Homo sapiens: one gene and its partner. The protein of the gene in region 1 purifies or fractionates together with the protein of each later gene. This does not show direct contact. Each region holds a gene or a part of one and is shown in the gene's direction. Other genes may lie near its edges. The genes, in order: CUEDC2 and KHK.

Region 1 (9,665 bases):
AGTCAACAAGCCCTGACTGACCAATTTCAAGCCCTCCTCCACCCCGCAATGACCTTACCTTTGTCTGGCTCACATTCTACTCAAGGGAATAAAATAGGAATCATAACATTACATACTTATGAGAACTTGCTCTATGCCAGGCACCACGTTAAAACCCTGAACAGAAACTATCAACACATTTAATTTAATCTTCACAAAACCTTGATGTGGATATAATTACATCCCATGGATGCAATTATCATTCCCATTTGCAGATGAGAAAACTGAGGGCCATTGATGTTAACAACTTACCCAAGGCTATACCCCAAGAATGTCCCTGGGAAATTTGATTGTAATTTTCTTATCTTTTTTTTTTTCTTTTCTTTTCTTTTTTTTTTTTTTTTTTTCTTTTTGAGAGAGAGACAGGGTCTTGCTCTGTGGCCCAGGCTGGAGTGCAGTGGTATGATCTTGGCTCACTGCCACCTCTGCCTCTCAGGCTCAAGCCATCCTCCCATCTCAGCCTCCTGAGTAACTGAGACTATAGGCACGCATCACCATGCCTGGCTAACTGATCGCAGTCTTAACCTGTAGGTCAAACTGTCTCTTCATACAGGAGACAAACTCAACAAAAATGCAAGGAATATTTATTGAACAGCTACTATATGCTGGACGCTGGACTAGACCCTACAGGGCTCATGAAGAGGGGTGTGGAGGATCTGTAAGAGATCATATGCACTGTTGGGGAGTTGAGAGAGGCTTCTTGGAAAAGGCATCTGGCTGGGCACAGTGGCTCACGCCTGTAATCCCAGCACTTTGGTAGGCCAAGGCAGGCGGATCACCTGAGGTCGAGAGTTCAAGAGCAGCCTGGCCAACCTGGTGAAACCCCATCTCTACTAAAAATAAAAAATCAGCCAGGCGTGGTGGTGTGTGCCTATAATCCCAGCTACTTGGGAGGCTGAGACAGGAGAATCACTTGAACCCGGGAAGCAGAGGTTGCAGTGAGCCGAGATTGCACCACCACACTCCAGCCTGGGCAACAGAACAAGACTCCGTCTCCAAAAAAAAAAAAAAAAAAAAAAAAATTAGCCAGGTGTGTTGGCACACGCCTGTAGTCCCAGCTACTCGGGGAGGCTGAGGCAGGAGAATCACTTAAACCTGGGAGGTGGAGGTTGCAGTGAGCTGATATTGCGCCACTGCACTCCAGCCTGGGCCACAGAATGAGACTCCATCCCAAAAAAAATAAATAAAAAGGAAAAAAGAAGAGGCATCTGAGAGAGGCTTTGAAGAATGTCCAGGATTCCAACAGACAGTGACAGGCAAGAGGTGTCCCCAGGAGCACTGAGGAAGGACCAGCATGAGAAGTGTGGAGCCGGAGCAGCAGGGGTTCACTAGTGGCAGGTTATGAGCAGGATGCGATGGAAGATCAGGCGTGAAAGCTAAGTGGAGGCCGTACTATAGAAGACTTTCTGGCAGGGTAAAGAGATTTGGGAGAGCCCCTGACGTCTTTGAGCATAAGAGTAGCCCGAGTCAAAGTTATTTAAAGGTTTGGCCAGTGGGCAAGATGTGGGCCTGCAGAAGCACCTGGCTGGGAAGTTGGGAGCCCAAACCATCAGCTGCCCCACGGCCTTGGCATTGATGTTGTAGCACTGCCGGGCACCAGAACTGAGTCCACAGGGCATTGCTAGAGCTCACAGCCTATGGAATTCAGTTCTCAGTGCCAGGTGGCCAAAGTTCTTTCAGCCTGGACGCTGCTCTTGCATGCTTTCTTCTGTGAATCGTCTCCCGTTCCCAGGATGAGTAAGTTGAGGCCCAGGATGGGTCACATAAGGAACTTGTGATACCAAGAGAACTCCTATTCCAGGGAGGGTCTGAGCTTGGAGCTGAAAATGGGGGCCCACAGCTAAGGAAATGGACAGGAGTTCCATAAATTCCAACAGGAATTGGAGTAGGTTAAGAGGGGAGGGGGCTCAGGGCCATGGCAGGGATCCATCTGTCGCTTCCTGCCCAGATGTGTTCCTGGTGGGGCCTGATGTGGGGCTGGAGGGGTGAGGGGCTGGGGAAAGAGCCAGAACACGCACACTGAGAAGGGCATCTCTATGCAAACCAAGGGGCTTTCTGAGCTAAAGGGAGTCCCCAAGATATGGATCCCCAAGATAGGAGCCCAGCCCAGGAGTCCTAGCTCCCCAGAAATCTCCCCAAAACCCTGAATAAAGATTTGAAGTACCTGGGATAGTGGAGTGGAGGAGAAAGAGTTCCCTGAAGCACACTTTCATTTTCTGGAGAGTTCAGCCGAGGGCTGGGTGCTCCCCTCACTCACATGGCAAAGCTGCAGCCTATCCCAGAGAGGGAAAGCCAAGCCTGCGCCTCAGGGGCACCCCATCCCGACCCCTGCTTGAATCCAGAGAGAGGGACAGCCACTTACCCACGAAACCTCCTCTCTATGGCTCCTGGGGCTGGATCTGCAACGATGTTCTCAGCCGGTGCTCCTTAAATAAGGCCCCCACCCCCGCCCCAGCCGCCTCCCGCCCCCGCCCCATGCTGGCTCTTCTGAGAAAGGAGGAAGGTGTGGGAGGGCCAGGAACCCTGCCCAGAGAGCCCTTTCTAACCTCAAGCCAGAGCGGGACCCCGCCCCCGCCATTCTTTGAAGCCTCCCCTTCCTCACCTTGGTCTCTAACTGAGTTCTTCCCACCCCTTGAGACCAGCCCGCTGGGCTCTCTCTCTACTCTGCCTGAAAAATCTGCCCTTTATGCCAAATTCAAGTCCAGTTTCTCATTTTGAAGCAGGATGATGGGGAATGGAGGTGCTAGGGGAAGCCTCAGCGTAGGTTTCTAGCTTTTCCCACCAGCTAAGGCGATCCAGGCACCCAAACACCAGCTGCAAAATTCACTGGAAGGAATGGCGGTGAAAAGGCATCCCTCTGCCTCCTTTAGCTCTGTGCCGCTTCAAGCAGTACCAAAGGGCAGTGGGGAGTCTGTTCCCATTTTGGGGAGAGAGAGACTGAGACCTGAGGGGAAAGAAAATCAGGGGCTGAAGTTCCAGCCAGCTTCAGAATCCCTCAGGGCAGGGATCCCGGGAGCCCCTACCTTACAGTATGTGTGTGTCCTTGTGTCTGTGGGGTTCCCTCTCCTCAGCCCACCTTCTGTCCTCGACCCCCCAGAACTTGACTCCTGCTGCACAGAGCTGGGACTCCCCAGAGTTTGAGTTGGGAAAGGAGGGACTCCCCCTAAGAAGTCTTTTCCATCCTCCTCCCTTGAAAGCTCAGGAAGTTCTTTCTGATACCAAGTCACATGCAGCTGCCATCCAGCAAACAGGGGATAGGGGAGAGGGGAAGGCACACAGTCAGAAATGGCTTGCAGGGGTCTTGGGCCAGAACTCAGGGCAGCTCTACTGAGGAAACTTGAAAGTTCCGGGAATGGAGGGTGGTAGGGAGAGAAGAGTCATCAGTATTGTGCAATGGACAGGGGGAAGCAGGAAAGGGGACGGGGGAGGAAAGGGATGGCTGGTCTCTGGAGGACAGGCAAAGGCCTGGGGCTGTGGGCTGCCCATCACCCCCTTCCTAGGGGCCTGCCCGGCCAGAGTTCAAAGTCGCTGTCACCCCACCCCTCATTAACCCTAGTATCACCAGGCTGGAGTGGCAGTGTTTTTATGGGCAAAGCGACGCGAATGTGCCCCTTCCTTCCCTGCTACCTCCCCCAAGCAGCCAACATCTTGCTGTCTCTGAGGCCAGAAGAGGAAGGAGGCTGTTGTGAGGACCAGAGGTGGAAGAGAAAGCAATAAGCAGTCATCCCGTTTTCTCCATAGTTTCTTCTTCTTCCTTCTCCTTCTTTTCTTCTTCTTTTTTTTTTTTTTTTTTTTTTTTGAGACAGGGTCTTGCTTTGTCACTCAGGCTGGAGTGCAGTAGCACAATCACGGCTTACTGCAGCCTTGACCTCTGGGGCTCAAATGATCCTCCCACCTCAGTCTCTGGAGTAGCTGGGACTACTGGCGTGTGTCACCATGCCCAGATAATTTTTTATTTTTTAAATTTTTTGTAGAGACGAGGTTTTGCCATGTTGCCCAGGCTGGTCTCAAATTCCTGGGCTCAAGCGATCCTCCCACCTCAGCCTTGCAAAGTGCTAGAATTACAGGTGTGAGCCACTGCAGCATAGTATCTTGGCACTGCCTTAGTCCCTAGGAGAGAGGAAAGATGGGACTTCTCTCTTGGACTGTGAGCTCCCTGAGGGCAGGGACAGCTTCCGGGTCCCCAGCACCCCACGAAGGAACTAGCACTAAAAAGGGCTCATCCCTGCTGATGGGGGATGGGAAATTTTATCCTTGAAGGGGACTCTTCCCCTTGTGACCCATTTCAGGGTTCCCAAGAGGGGAGGGCTGTGGGGCTTCCCCACAGGGCAGCACCGGGAATCTGTGGCAGCAGGAACAAAAAGAGGAAGTTGAAGTCTTGTTGGGCCCTGGAGTTCAGCTCTCCTGTCCTAGACAAGCAGCCCTGCCAACATGGGGGATGAAGGCCCCGGGGGGTAGGCATGGTCTACAGGCTGTCCATGACAGGGCTCAGGTGGATCCTCATCCTGGCACCTGCTACCACTCCACCTCTCCCAGACCACGTCCAAAATCCCAGGCTCCACCCTCCGGAGACACAGACCTGTAGCTCACCCCAATCTAGGGGAGACATTGCTGTTAAGGGAATGCAAAAGGTACAGACAGGGTGGGGAAGTCAGTACCTAAGAGACCAGCCTGGGCCACGTGGCAAAAACCCTGTCTCTACAAAAAAAAAAAAAAAAAAAAAAATTAGCTCGGCGTGGTGGCACGCGCCTGTGGTTCCAGCTACTCCAGAGGCTGAGATGGGAGGATCACTTGAACCCAGGAGGTCGGGGCTGCAGTGAGCCATGTTCGCACTCGTGAACCTGCACTCCAGCCTGGGGCTGTAACAGCAAGAAAAGAAGAAAAAGAAAGAGAAGGAAGGAAGGGAGGGAGGGAAAGAAAGGAAAATAAAGAAAGAAGAAAAGAAAAGAGGCCAGGCGCGGTGGCTCATGCCTGTAATCCCAGCACTTTGGGAGGCCGAGGCAGGCGAATCACGAGGTCAGGAGTTTGAGACCAGCCTGGCCAACATGGTGAAACCCCGTTTCTACTAAAAATACAATAAATTATCTGGGCGTGGTGGCGCGCGCCTGTAATCCCAGCTACTCGGGAGGCTGAGGCAGGAGAATCTCTTGAACCCGGGAGGCGGAGGTTGCAGTGAGCCGAGATCGCGCCACTGCACTCCAGCCCGGGAGACAGTGCGAGGCTCCCTCCCAAAAAAAAAAAAGAAGAAGAAAAGGAAAAAAAAGTGAGAGAGAGAGAGAGAGAGAGACGAGAAAAAGAGAGAGAGAAAGAAAGAGAAAGGTTTCGGGTCTCTGACGGATGAGAAGGAACAAGACGGGGATGCAGTCCTACCCACTTCGACTCCACCCCCTCTCAAGACCTTCACGCCTAACGCCTCCCTACGCGCAACAAAACTGGCCGCCAAGGGAGCCCGTCCATAGCCCTGGGACGTTAGAGAATTAGAGCAGGAGCTCCGCCCTGTTGTGGGCAACTTGCCCTTCTCAAACATGGCCGCCACGGCGCCTCTGGAAGGGAACCGCTCTGGGCCCCGCCTTTGATCTCGTTGGTGGGGCTGGGGGATGAGAGCTGCACCGCGCGGGACAAGTCGCCGGCGGCGCCCGACGGAGCAGGTGATTTCCCCTCCTGCCCCCGGCCCAGGGCTAGGAGAGTCGCGGAGAGCGCTGACCCAGGGTACCCGTCCGATGTGTTCCCCCACGGTACCCCCCCCGGGGCCCGTCGGACCCCCATCTCTGATTCTCGCCGTGGCCTGTATCAAGGCACATCCAGTTTGCTCAGGCCTGCCTCGTCATGTGTCCTCCAAGGCCACAGCCGCATCCCTGTGCCTTCGGGCCCACTATTCTGGACGCTTACGGGTGTCCCGCTAGCGGGTTTAGGGAGCTGCTGCTTCAGGGGTCGTCCATCATCGCGGTCCCACTTCCTGTGCTCGCCCTCCCTGTTTGTGCTCCCGCCTGACTTTGGATGCAGGGATCCCTTGTTCCCCTCAATGCCCTTGGTGCCTCTAAGGTCTGACTTGGGTATCAGAGGACAATGATATCCTCTGGGGCCTGCGTTATGGGTCCAGGGCCTCAGGAACCGGGCTTCACAGGGGCTGGGAGAAGCAGTGAAGACCTTCCATGCTAGACCCCTTGCTGCCTCCCTGAGAAGTTCGCTAGGACTCCTTTCACACTAGCTCCCAGGATTCCTCCTCCCACATGGCCTGCTCTCCCTCCACTTTAAGCACCTCCCCACCCCAAGGGAGCAGCATAGTACTTCTTACCCCACTCTCACTTAAATTTGTCCACAGTGTCTCTATCTAGCATCTGGAGGGTCCAGGCCTGTGCTGCCCTTGGGAAGCTCCCAGGCTAGCTGGGAGCAGTGAAGGTGGGGCAGTTAGGGTTGGCTGCAGAAAGGGAGTCCTGCAGAATGAGATTTGGAGAGGCAGAGGGACAGATGCTCTGGGCTGGGAGAGTGGTGTGAGCAAAGATTCTGAAATAGACAATATAGCCAGCCAGGCAGGAGAGGAGATTCAGAATATAGGATGGGGCCACACAATTTGCATCGTGAGAGGTGATGTAGTGTGGTGGTTAACAGTGAGGGTTCTGGATCCAGACAGCCTGGGTGTAAATCTGCCATTAACTTGCCTTGTGACCTTGGGCAAGTTACTTAACCTCATAGTGCCTTCATTTCCTTTCAGGTAAAATGTGGATAATACGGCCGGGCGCGGTGGTTCATGCCTGTAATCCCAGCACTTTGGGAGACCGAGGCGGGTGGATTGCCTGAGGTCAGGAGTTCGAGACCAGTCTGGCCAACATGGTGAAACCCCGTCTCTACTAAAAAATACAAAATAAATTTGCCAGGCATGGTGGCATGCGACTGTAATCCCAGCTACTCAGGAGGCTGAGGCAGGGGAATTGCTTGAACCAGGGAGGTGGAGGTTGCAGTGAGCTGAGATCGCACCACTGCACTCCAGCCTGGATGGCAGAGCGAGACTCCGTCTCAAAAATACATAAATAAATAAAATAAATAAAATAAAATGGGGAGAATAACAGTATCTACATTTTAGAGTTATTGTAAGGATTAGGTAAGTTAATACATGTAAAAGTGCTTAGGACAATGCCTCGTAAGCAGAGGCAATAAATGCTAATATTACCATCATCGGAGGCATTTAGGCAGGACTCATGACAGGATGACAGTCACATTTGGTAGACACCATCAACCAATGATCTCTAATTTGCGGCCCCCAAGAAGCAATGGGGTTCTGTGGGCTACATCTGGAATTTGAAATGTCTCATGGAAATCATGTTCTTACCCTGGAGAAGGGTGGCTGCTTAGGTGCTACTTAGGAAACCAGTCTGGCAGACCAGATCTTCCCCAACTCAGGGGCTATGCGGGGAGAAGTATTAGGAGCCCCTGAGCAGGAAGGATGTACTTAGGAAGGCTACCGGGGATGGGGAAGGGTAAAAGAGCTTAGAAGCCTGGGTGAAGTTTGGGTAGACCAAAAACAGGAGGAGGGAGGGAGGATGTTCCCTTGGAATACAAACTAGAGAAAAGCTTAGGGGAGCAAGTCTTTTTATTTGGGGACAGTGAAGAGTTTCCTAAAAATTCCCTGGCCCCCAGGCCTTGGCTAAAAACCCAGAAGCATGAGACACATCCCTGAGAAGCTTCTTCCCTAGAAACTGGGCTCTCAGGCCGGGCACGGTGGCTCACGCCTATAATCCCAGCACTTTGGGAGGCCTAGGCGGGCAGATCACCTGAGGTCGGGAGTTCGAGACCAGCCTGACCAACATGGAGAAACCCTGTCTCTACTAAAAATACAAAATTAGCCGAGCATGGTGGCACATGCTTGTAATCCCAGCTACTCAGGAGGGCTGAGGCAGGAGAATCGCTTGAACCCAGGAGGTGGAGGTTGCGGTGAGCCAAGATCGCGCCATTGCACTCTAGCCTGGGCAACAAGAGTGAAACTCTGTCTCAAAAGTAAAATAAATAAATAAATAAATAAATAAATAAAATTAAAAAAAAAAAAAGAAAACCTGGGCTTTCAGCCAAGTTTCAGTCACCACCACACAGGTGGCTCATGCCTGTAATCCCAGCACTTTGGGAGGCCAAGGTGGGCAGATCACCTGAGGTCAGGAGTTCGAGACCAGCCTGGCCAACATGGTGAAACCCCGTCTCTACCAAAAATACAAAAAATTAGCTGGGCGTTGTGGCAGGCGCCTGTAATCCCAGCTACTCAGGAGGCTGAGGCAGGAGAATTGCTTGACCCTGTCAGGTTCACACCATTGCACTCCAGCCTGGGCAACAAGAGCGAAACTCCGTCTCAAAAAAAAAAAAAAAGAAAGAAACTGGGCTTTCATGCAGCAGCCATGGGCCTTTGTCCCGGCAGAGGCTACCATGCAACTGACAGCCCAGGATTCGAGGGTGATGTAACCCAGGGTCGAGGTAGGTCCCTGGAGGCGGTTCTACCCTGAGGGAGCTGCATGATGGGATCTAGTATGCCTGGGCTGAGCCATTCTGCTCTTCCTCAGGGCCCATGAGGGCTCTGGCGCAGGTGGTATGAATTCCCCTGGTAGGCTGGGGCTTCTCAGTCCTGCTTTCCAAAGTGACCCCTGTGCTATGAGCAACTCTGTTACCACTCGGGACCAGGCAACTGTAAGCATAGAAGGTAGCCCTGTCCCAACCCACTTGAAAGTCTTGATATCCTCCCTTCCCCAGAGTAGCCCCTAGAATAGATGCTGAACTAGGTGACCTGGATTTAAATCTGACTACCGCAGTCAAGCCAGGTGACTCTGGGCAAGTCATTAAACACACTGAACTTCATTTCTTCATAGGTAAATTGGGGTTCAACTGTTTATTGAGTGCCCACTTCATGAGAGATGCTGAGTATACACTGGTGAATGTCAGCCCGGTGTTTAGTCCCTGCTTCATGAGACAACTGGAAGAAACATTAAACATTGTCCAAATAATAATTATGGCTGTGAAAGGTGCTGCTAGTCAGAAAACTTGCAGCCTGCATAGAGAGTGTAATATGGCAGGGCCCAAATGAGTTCTAGGTCAGGGGTGATGTCCCTTGAGGAAGAAGGGAATTATTTTATTTTTATTTGAAAATATTTTTCTTTTCTTTTTTTTTTTTTTTTGAGACAAAGTCTCACTCTGTCGTCCAGGCTGGAGTGCAGTGGTGCAATCTCGGCTCACTGCAACCTCCGCCTCCCAGGTTCATGTCATTCTCCTGCCTCAGCCTCCTGAGTAGCTGGGACTACAGGCGCGTGCCACCACACCCAGCTAATTTTTGTATTTTTAGTAGAGACGGGGTTTCACTGTGTTAGCCAAGATGGTCTTGATCTCCTGACCTCGTGATCCAACCCCCTGGGTCTCCCAAAGTGCTGGGATTACAGGCATGAGCCTCCGTGCCTGGCCTAAAAATATTTTTCTACAAAAAGAGAGATGGGGTCTTGATATGTTGCCGAGGCTGGTCTTAAACTCCTGAGCTCAAACGATCCTCTTGCCTCAGCCTCCCAAAGTGCTGGAATTACAGGCATGAGGCACCGTGCCCAGCCAAGGAAGGGAATTTTAAAATGAGACCCAAAAGATCAGAGTGACAGTAAGTGAAG
Region 2 (9,734 bases), on another chromosome or scaffold:
TCTGTTGCCCAGGCTGGAATGCAGTGGCATGATCTTGGCTCACTGCAACCTCCGCCTCCTGGATTCAAGCGATTCTCCTGCCTCAACCTCCTGGGTAGCTGGGATTATAGGCATACGCCACCATGCCCCACTAATTTTTTTTTTCTTTTGTAGAGACAGGGCTTTTCTTTGTAAAGACATGTTGGCCATGCTGGTCTCAAACTTCTAATCTCAAGTGATCTGCCCGTCTCAGTCCCCCAAAGTGCTGGGATTACAGGCATGAGCCACCACACCCGGCTTATTGGTTCTTGTATTTCCTCTTGATAAGGGCCCCACCATTACACTGTAATGCTGTGAAGGCATTTCTGTGGGGCGGGACACTAGCTTTCTCTTGGTGCAGTCAGTGAGTGCTTAGAACACTGAGAATTGCTCCTGGGCTATATCAGTTGTCGCAGCTAAGAACTGGATAAGAGGCAGTTCAAGACTGAACTCCACAAAGACACGACAGTGCTGATGGCTGCCAGGCTAACTGAGGTGAGAGACCCCGACACTCCTCAGGCTTTGGGGCCACAAAGCACCATCACATATATTATTTTATACTCTCCTCCCAGCAGCCCATGGGAACTGTGTAAAGATCAGTGAAATCCTTTATACAGATAAGGAAGCTGAAGATTTGGAGATGTTTTTTAAGGCCACGGAGTTAAATGGTGGCACAGTGGCAGCTGCAGCTCGAGTCTCCTAGTGTGGAGTCCAGGGTCCCTGCCCTCTGTCATCTCCTGTATACCCTGTCCCTTTGCTGTTGACCATCTCTTGGAGTTGACCCTTTGCTTTGGTTTGCCAGAGGTTAGGGCCCCTTGCCAGGGGTGCAGGGACTGGGGAAGGGGCACGGGCATGCCACTGTGTAGACCTAACCCACTGTGCAAGGTCGAGGCAGCCACAGGACATGGCACTCAGTGAGGAGTTGGGTTCATCTCAGGGCAACAGTGCAAATTCCAGGGCCACAGGTTCTCCAAGGACCGTGGAGAGCCTGGGAAAAGACTCAGCGCCTCTTTCTGTCAGAGCTGAAGTCCCATTTCCTCTCAGCTTAATTCTGTCGGGAAGGTAGGAGAAGGAGGTCCTGCTAGCACCCACACTGATGGGGCAGGTTCTGAAGGTGGGCACTGAGCGAGGCACTTCTCTAAAGGGCCCCTTCCCATGTCCATCATGCTTCCTGCACTCCAGGCCATGCCTTCCCCGCAGCCCCATGGCCCTGGTTCCCTGCAGCCTGGCTCCTGAACTGTTGTGCCTCCCAGAGGAGCACATCCGAGTGGGGACCCAGTCCTTCCTGGGTGTCTCAGCCCCACCTGTCCTAGGGTCTCTGTGCTTGACAGGCAGTTGGGGACTCTTGGGAGCCGCCACCTGGAGCTCAGCCAGACCCCTGGGACGTGTCCTTTTTTTTATTTTTTGAGTTGGAGTTTTGCTCTTGTTGCCCAGGCTGGAGTGCAATGGTGCGATCTTGGCTCACTGCAACCTCCGCCTCCAGAGTTCAAGCAATTCTCCTGCCTCAGCATCCCGAGTAGCTGGGATTACAGGCATGTGCCACCACACCCAACTAATTTTGTACTTTCAGTAGAGATGGGGTTTCTCCATGTTGGTCAGGATGGTCTCGAACTCCCGACGTCAGGCGATCCGCCTGCCTCAGCCTCCCAAAGTGCTGGGATTACAGGCGTGAGCCACCGCGCCCAGCCTTTAGCTGAGCATTTCTGCACAGGAAATATCAGTGTGACTTTGAAGGGTTTCCCCAGAGTAAAATTCTATATCCTTTCTTAGAAACCTCAATGCTTGGGCCTAACAACTTTTAGTTTTAAAATACGGAGTAATTAGCAATGGCTTTGGGGTCAGGAAATTGGGTTCCCACATCAGCTTTGTCCTTAACTATTGATCAAGTCAGATCCCTCGAGATTCCTCCTTTTTTTTCATATCTTTTCGTAAAAATTTCTGTAAAGCTGTAAAGCTCAGCTTGAAAATCTTTTTTTTCTTTTTTCTTTCTTTTTTTTTTTTTTTTTTTGGAGACAAAGTCTTACTCTGTCACCCAGGCTGGAGTGCAGTGGCATGATCTTGGCTCACTGCAACCTCTGCCTCCCGGGTTCAAAAGATTCTCCTGCCTCAGCCTCCCGAGTAGCAGGGATTACAGGCACCTGCCACCACACCCGGCTCATTTTTGTATTTTTAGTAGAGACAGGGTTTCAACATCTTGGCCAGGCTGGTCTTGAACTCCTGACCTCGTGATCCACCCGCCTCAGCCTCCCAAAGTGCTGAGATTATGGGCGTGAGCCACTGCGCCCGGCCAGCTTGAAAATCTTTGACCAGCTGGGTGCAGTGGCTCATACCTATAATCCCAGCACTTTGGGAGGCCAAGGCAGGAGGATCGCTTGAGCCGAGGAGTTCGGGACCAGCCTGGGCAACATAAGAAGATGCCATCTCTACGAAAAAATTTTTTAAATTAGCGGGGCATGGTGATGCACACCTATAATCCCAGCTACTTGGGAGACTAAGGTGGGAGGATCAGTTGAGCTGGGGAAGTTGAGGCTGCAGTGAACCATGATCATGCCATTGCACTCCAGCCTGGGTGACAGAGTGACTCTGTCTCAAAAAAACAAAAAAATTACTATCCTTTGTCATTGTTGTTATTGTTGTTTTTGAGACAGGATCTCACTCTGCCACCCAGGCTGGAGTGCAGTATCATGGCTCACCCCAGCCTAAACCTCCCGGGCTCATACGCTCCCCCAACTTCAGCCTCCTGAGTAGCTGGGACCACGGGTATGCACCACCATACCCAGCTAATTTTTAATTTTTTTTTTTTTTTTAGAGACAAGAGCTCCCTTTGGTTGCCCAGGCTGGTCTCGAACTTCTGGGCTCAAGTGATCCTCCTGCTTTGGCCTCCCAAAGTGCTGGGATTATAGGCATAAGCCACTGTGCCTGTCCTACTATCATTTTTTTTCTAATGACATCGTGCTCCCCTTTTCCCAAAACTGAAGTTTCGCGTACAAATATGCTTTGGCCTAAAAATTCTGGTTCGGTTTTTTCTCTTAATTCGTGGTTCTTTGGTACTGTTCCTTTTATTGTAAACTGCCACAATTATTATTATTATTGGAACTGGCACAATAGAAATAACACCACCATTCTTACCTCAAAGGTAATAACATTCATTAATGATTTCTCATTTGGGCTCCAGTAACACTGTGAGGGGATCAGTGCGTTGACCCTCTATGTGGAAGTTATCATTTTTGCTGCTGATGACAATGAAGCCCTTCACGTGTGTCTTGTTAGTTTCCTTTTGGTTGGTTTTTAGTAAAGATGGAGAAGTGCTCCCTGCTGCCACTTCTTAAACGACCAACGTCCAGGTTTGCTGTCCTGTCTTACTCGTTTGATTTTATAGCTCTGCAGTTTCTATTGAAGTAGACACTCCTAACACAGGGGTAGGTGTAAATGTGATACCTTTGGGAAGAGGCACTTAGTCCCCGAGGTCCTTGGAGTTGCTCCAGCTCTCAAGGAGGAGGCCAAAGGTGCAGCGTCTGGAGCAGCTCTGACTGGGGTGAAAGGTGAGGAGGAGATGACCTGGAGTTAGTGGGTCTCTCGAATAGTGATGGACCCAAGTGAGTGGTTTCCTGTTGCCCTAGGAACAGATGGAAATATTGAAAGGAACTGCTGTCAGCTTGAATTTAGCCTGGGCTGGGGAGGTAGACACCGCTCTCAGCCAAGCTCCTTCCCTTGGCCGGCCTCGGCTGCCCCGGGTACAAAGTGAGACGTCGGCCTAGATGCTTTCTGAGAGGAGTCCCCAGCTGTTACATTCTGTAGGCCCCTATACAGGAGACTGTGCTTGGGATCAGCCTGCTGGGGCTGCAGGGACCCTCCCTGTGCTTTGCAGGTGTTTGTCCCAGAGATGGCAGCGCGGAGGCAACGCGTCCAACTCCTGCACCGTTCTCTCCCTGCTCGGAGCCCCCTGTGCCTTCATGGGCTCAATGGCTCCTGGCCATGTTGCTGAGTAAGTCCAGGAGGGAGAGCCCACTGGGGAAGGCCTGCCTGCATCATTGTGGGAGAAGAAGGATGTATCCACCCTGGGTGGATGGGGGATTAGAAATGGGTTGTGTCCAGCAGAAACGCGGGGAGGGGGCATGGCGGAGCACCAGACGCCCAGCCCTGCCTTGGCGTGGCCTCTCTGCGGTTCGGGGGCTGATGCTGCCCCTGTGAAGCTTTCCTTGCCACAGCTTGTTTCCTGGACACTTCTGGAGCCTGCTTCAGCCTCTTCCTTTCTCCTTCCTTGCTTCCTGCAGACTCTGCGGTGGATGTGCCTTTGCCTTATCTTAAGTCCCTTATCCTGGCCATGCTTGAGGCAGAAGGCAGTTAGGGACACGTGGTACCCATCCTCCCCCAGGTCCAGGCCCACAGTTTCTGTCCCAGTTGAGAGGCAGGGCTGGTGCTCATGTCCCTGTTGTTCACTGAAGCAGTGAGAGTACCCTGTTCAAGGACACCCTGAAGCCACATGCTAAAGCTGGGCTCAGAACCCACACCTCCCAGTTCCCCGGCTGTCAGGGCTATAGCCCTAAATGGCTCATGCACGCCCTCCATGTTGGCTGCTGCAGGGACCTCAGAGCCCTTTGACCCCTGGCGCTGCCGACTCAGCAAGCACTTATCGGGAGGTGAGGCCCACACTTTGCACACTGTGGGCACGGGGGCAGGCTGCCAGGTTGCTGGCCTGTGAAGGGCAGCCCTTTGAACCCTGGTTTGAAGGGGGCTGCTGGCAGAGTCCAACCACCTGAGCTACAGCCAAACTCCCTGCCTTGATGAACTGGCAGGAAGAGAATAGAGGGAGAGAATCTGCCCTGTGAGATGGGACAGGACGGCTCAGAACCAAGGGCTGGTGACTCATTAAACCTCTTTAATAGCTCCTTTCCTCTGAGCTAGAGGCAGGACTGTGGCTCTGGCTTAGGATGGTCGACTCTCCTTTACATAGCAATCAGGCCAATGGGTGGTTTATTCAGAATTCTCCCCATGTGCTCGACAAACATTTAGAGAGCACCTACCATGTCCCAGGCACTGGGGTGCGAAAGTTATTTGGCAAACCAAACCATATTTCCAATGCTTTGGGAAAGTTACTATTTAAAGGAGTTGTAAGTCAAGGGATGATGCCCTGACTTGGTATCTTTATGCAAATCTGTATTATCCAGCTTTGGTGTTGCTGAAAGCGGGCTCTGGCCAGGTGAGAAAAGCCAGGATGGTGGCTGGACTGCTGGGCATAATTGCCAGTTCTTGAGCACAGAACAATGCCTGTCCATAGAGGGCTGGAAGGGCTGGGGCTGACCTCCTTGTCCTTGCCCCTGGGCTCACTCTGCATGGAGGGCATTCCAGGAGAGAGTTCTGGACCAGGCCCATACTGAGTGGCATCAGGCACGGGGAGCCAGCTGATTGCCCAGGAGGGTTCACCTGGCTGCAGGAGGACAAAGCAGTGAGCTGGCTCACCAAGGCAGCACCACTTCCAGGCTGGGCCTCCTGGAGGCAGGCAGAGAGTGAGAGGAATCACAGCATTAGGACTGGGAGGGACTGAGAGAGGACAGCACCCTGGATGAGCTTGTGGAGGACAGCTGGGGGCAAAGTATTGCCTTGGAGATTAATTATTAATCCTGTTTGGGCATTGCAGGAAACAAGCCACGGTGCCCCCACATGCTTGGTTCAAACAGTGTACAGGTTCTAGGGTCCTGTCTAGCTTTATGAACAGGAGCAAATCCTTTCCAGCATGAGTTGGACTGAAAAACAGAGTCAGGATCGGAGCATGCTTCAGCCAAGACCTAAAAGGATGGCCCTTAGTGTTTCTCTCTCTGAGCTCCAGGCTCTGCACTCCTGCATCTCCTGCCCTGTTGCACTGCCTGTGGCAAGACTGTGATTCCCAGTTCTCTCCCAGCCCCCTTTGCTTGCACCCCTGCCTTTCAGGGTCCCTAGTGGCCCTGCCAGCTACCCTCCAGTCCCCAAAACCCTTGTCGAACTGCACCCCCTTCGGGTTACTCCGCCCTAGCAGTTTTGTCCTGGATGACCTCCGCCGCTATTCTGTGGACCTACGCTACACAGTCTTTCAGACCACAGGCTCCGTCCCCATCGCCACGGTCATCATCAACGAGGCCAGTGGTAGCCGCACCATCCTATACTATGACAGGTTTGTACAACTGTCTGTGCCTTGCCAGCTGCTGCCGCCGCCACCAAAACTCCCAGAACAGGACTCTTCTTCTCTTAGAGGCTCGTGTGCTCCAGCACCCTCTCCCCACTCCTTTTGGAGGTCCAGACCACTTCCAGGCTCTAATCTGTGTCTCCTTGCCCTTTTCCTGGCCCGGCCTCCACCCTAAGCTTCCTGGTGGCCGACTTCAGGCGGCGGGGCGTGGACGTGTCTCAGGTGGCCTGGCAGAGCAAGGGGGACACCCCCAGCTCCTGCTGCATCATCAACAACTCCAATGGCAACCGTACCATTGTGCTCCATGACACGTAAGGCCCCCGGGCCTCGCCCTGCTACAACCCACCAATCAGTTGGCTCAATCAGTTCCCTCACTCGCCACCATGGGCATCCCAACTGCCCCCCTCTGTGGCTTCTGTGTACCAGAAGTTGCTCCCCTGCCAAAATGTCCAGTGATTTCCTAATTGCTTTCAATTAGGGGAAAAGTGAGGTGGGAAGGGATGGGCTTTGCTGTGCCTGGTGACTTGGCCTTGGTCAACACCAAAGAAGGGCAGGCAGGCCTATATAAACTGTAATTTATTAAGTGATTCCTCCATAATTATTAAATCGTTAATCAGCAGCTTGGCTGTGGGTGCGGGGAAACTGTTCTCAGGACAGAAGGGTGGGAGATGGGATTCAACCCTTCTTAAGAAGGGCTGTGGGGGGGTGCCCACTGGGATTTCCAAAGTCAGCCCCAGAGTTGCCAGCCTGCAGCATGGCACCAAGGAGCTGGGGTTTGGGTGTGTAAAAGAGATCAGCCCCCCAAAGTTTCCAGCATGATGAAGCCAGGCCACACACCATTCACAGCCATTGCTGAAGGAGGGGAAAGGAAACATGGGGTCAGCAGATCAGGGTCATCTAACATGGTGCTGACCTGGGGGAAGGGGCTATCCCTCCCTTCAGGGTCCCAGGCCACTCAAGAGAGGCCCCATGGGCCTAGACACTTCTTATCCCTTGCAGACTCCCTCCTGCAGGATTTTAGAGGTTTAGTGTACTAAGAACCTAGTACGTGCCAGGTACTGTTATGGCTGAGAGGGCCCAAGCCCAGCAGCCCTCAGGTTCAGGCTGTTCCTACGGCCCAGCCTGACTGCCGGACCTGGAGGAGGGGCAGCCATCCCTGGGCTTCATATGTGCAGTGAGTGTGAGTAGGCAGGCATATGTGCTACAGGTGACCTTCGCATTGGGCAATCCTAGTCAAATGCTTGTTAAGCAACAATCCGTAGTAACCCTGATCAAGGACACAACATAGCTATTTACAGGAGAGGAGCTCTGAGGAGAAATGTTTCTTGCCCACTGGCCTCAGTCCAGGCACATTCACACACATTACCTGCAACTGCAGCAGGCTGCAAGGGGGCTGGGGGTTTCAGCCCCATTTATCAATGTGGAAGTTGCCTCCCAAAGGCCCGGGCAGATCACACAGCTATAGTTAAGTGGAAGGACTCGGCTACAGAACGTGGAGCGGGGACTTTGGCTGAGTTGAGGTCTCTGGCTCAGGAGGGTCAAGGCAGACCTCTATCGGGAGTCCCCTTTCCTAAACCGGCCAAACACAAACTCTTCCTCAAGTGCTACCTTGACCTCAGGGTTGCAACGGGGAGCTATTAAACGCAGGACAGGGGTGCCATAGGTAAACCCCAACGCTGGGGCGCCAGAAGTGAGGGGGACCAGACAGCCCAGGCAGGGGGTCGCGGGCTTTATACTTTCCCAGGGCTCTGCCTGTGGGAGCCGTGTGCTGCTGCAAGGGATTCTGGGAAGTGTAGGCTTGGCGCTCTCAGTGCATTCTGGGAGATGCAGTCTCCAAGGCACACAGACCTTGCCAGTTGACATGTGTTGCAGTTCAGTTTACCGAGATAATTTAATCACAACCTCAAACTCAGGAAAGGGCACCCCAGCAGACTGTAACAGGGACAACCCTGGAGCTGAGCCTGAGAATCCTGTGCTGTGGATCCAGCTTCCTGTCATGCTGCCAGCAGTGCAGGCACAGGGTCCACAGCTGCCAGTTAGAGATCCTGGCTCTGCCTGACCCCATCATGCTCCTTCTTCTCTGTCTTTTCCATCCTGTGACCTAGGAGCCTGCCAGATGTGTCTGCTACAGACTTTGAGAAGGTTGATCTGACCCAGTTCAAGTGGATCCACATTGAGGTAAGCCCTGCCTTACCTGTGTTTCAAGGGGCTCAACCTGCCAGCCTCCTCCACATGTTCTGCCTCCTTGGTTTCTTTGAATCATGAAGTACCTTAGAGATAAATGAACCCAACCCCCTCATTCTCTCTCCATCTTTCCTTATGTCTTCAGGTGAGAAAACTAAGGCCCAGAAAGATTAGATGACTTACTCAAGGTCACACAGCAGAACGTAAGCACAGCTGGCTCCAGGCAAAGTCCTGTGCTTTCTGTGCTACGGGCTGCCCCATTGCCTCCAACTCTGCCTCTGGCGGATGTCTGACTGCTTAGGGCCTGACCCATTACCTCTGGGGAAGCAGGAAGGACAGGGCCTGACTCAGCTCCCAAATAAAGGGAACTAGAGCCTTTACTCCAAGAGAGGTTTTGGAGTCTGGGTGGAAGGAAATCCTGAGAAGTCCTGAGTTCTAGCTCCATCATTTAACCTATGGTAGGTCTTTCACAGTATCTTTTATTCTTTAGTCTTCTCATCTGTGGAATGGAGTAGCTGGTTGATAAGGTCTTCAAAGTCCACGACAGCTCTGAATGTTGTAATTTAGGATGGGGTTCTAGCCCAGCCTCCCCGAGGCCCTCTCCCTCCTCACCCAGAGTTTCAGCGGGGCAGGAAGAATGAGGCAGATTGGCCAGGCAGTGCCCAGCGGTCCTGAGCTGCCCTGTCCTGTACCAGGGCCGGAACGCATCGGAGCAGGTGAAGATGCTGCAGCGGATAGACGCACACAACACCAGGCAGCCTCCAGAGCAGAAGATCCGGGTGTCCGTGGAGGTGGAGAAGCCACGAGAGGAGCTCTTCCAGCTGTTTGGCTACGGAGACGTGGTGGGTGCCCCATTCAGCCTCTCTTTGCCACTTCCAGCTAATTTGGTTCTTAAAGGGAGCCAGAATCCTTTTATCCTGCCTACCACAATTGGAATAGTGGTTCCTGGTTTGGTGGTGTTTGAAGATGGGGGATGGGGGTTAAAGCAAAGAAGTAGACCCCTAGCCTTGGGCTCCAGTGCAGGCCTCAGCAGTGAGCAAGGAGTAGAATGTCTCCACCCCAGGTGGGTGCATAGGTGTAAGAATGCCCAGAGGGCTTGGGTAGGGCTTAAACAGCCACAGGGCAAGCCTGTGTGGAAGCATCTCCTCTCTGGGGCTCCCCAGTCTTTTCCTCTGCAGAATGAGGGCACACAACTGTTCTCTGAGGTTTCTTCCAACTCAGGGGTGTCTGGCAGGTTGTGGGGGCTGCTAGGGTGAGGGAAGGGTGGGAAGGAGACTTGCATGAGTCTCTTTTTGAAAAGGCTGGATGTAAATGGAATTTGGGAAGTAATCCCAGCATCATAGCAGAAGTTGGTTGGAGACCATCCAGCCAA

What was found.
Region 2: the proteins of CUEDC2 (region 1) and KHK purify together in Homo sapiens (affinity purification with mass spectrometry; 2 studies listed by BioGRID and IntAct, with this or other methods). This does not show direct contact.

What each region holds. Positions count from the first base shown.
Region 1 is NC_000010.11:102,428,548-102,438,212, reverse strand, and holds the start of CUEDC2 (CUE domain-containing protein 2), read left to right. Parts: upstream 1-5,638; 5' UTR 5,639-5,687; intron 5,688-9,665.
Region 2 is NC_000002.12:27,088,446-27,098,179, forward strand, and holds part of KHK (ketohexokinase), read left to right. Parts: intron 1-3,886; coding exon 3,887-4,003; intron 4,004-6,028; coding exon of another isoform or gene 6,029-6,166; intron 6,167-6,354; coding exon 6,355-6,489; intron 6,490-8,283; coding exon 8,284-8,356; intron 8,357-9,057; coding exon 9,058-9,204; coding exon of another isoform or gene 9,205-9,618; exon of another isoform or gene 9,619-9,633; intron 9,634-9,734. UniProt on the Homo sapiens protein: Catalyzes the phosphorylation of the ketose sugar fructose to fructose-1-phosphate.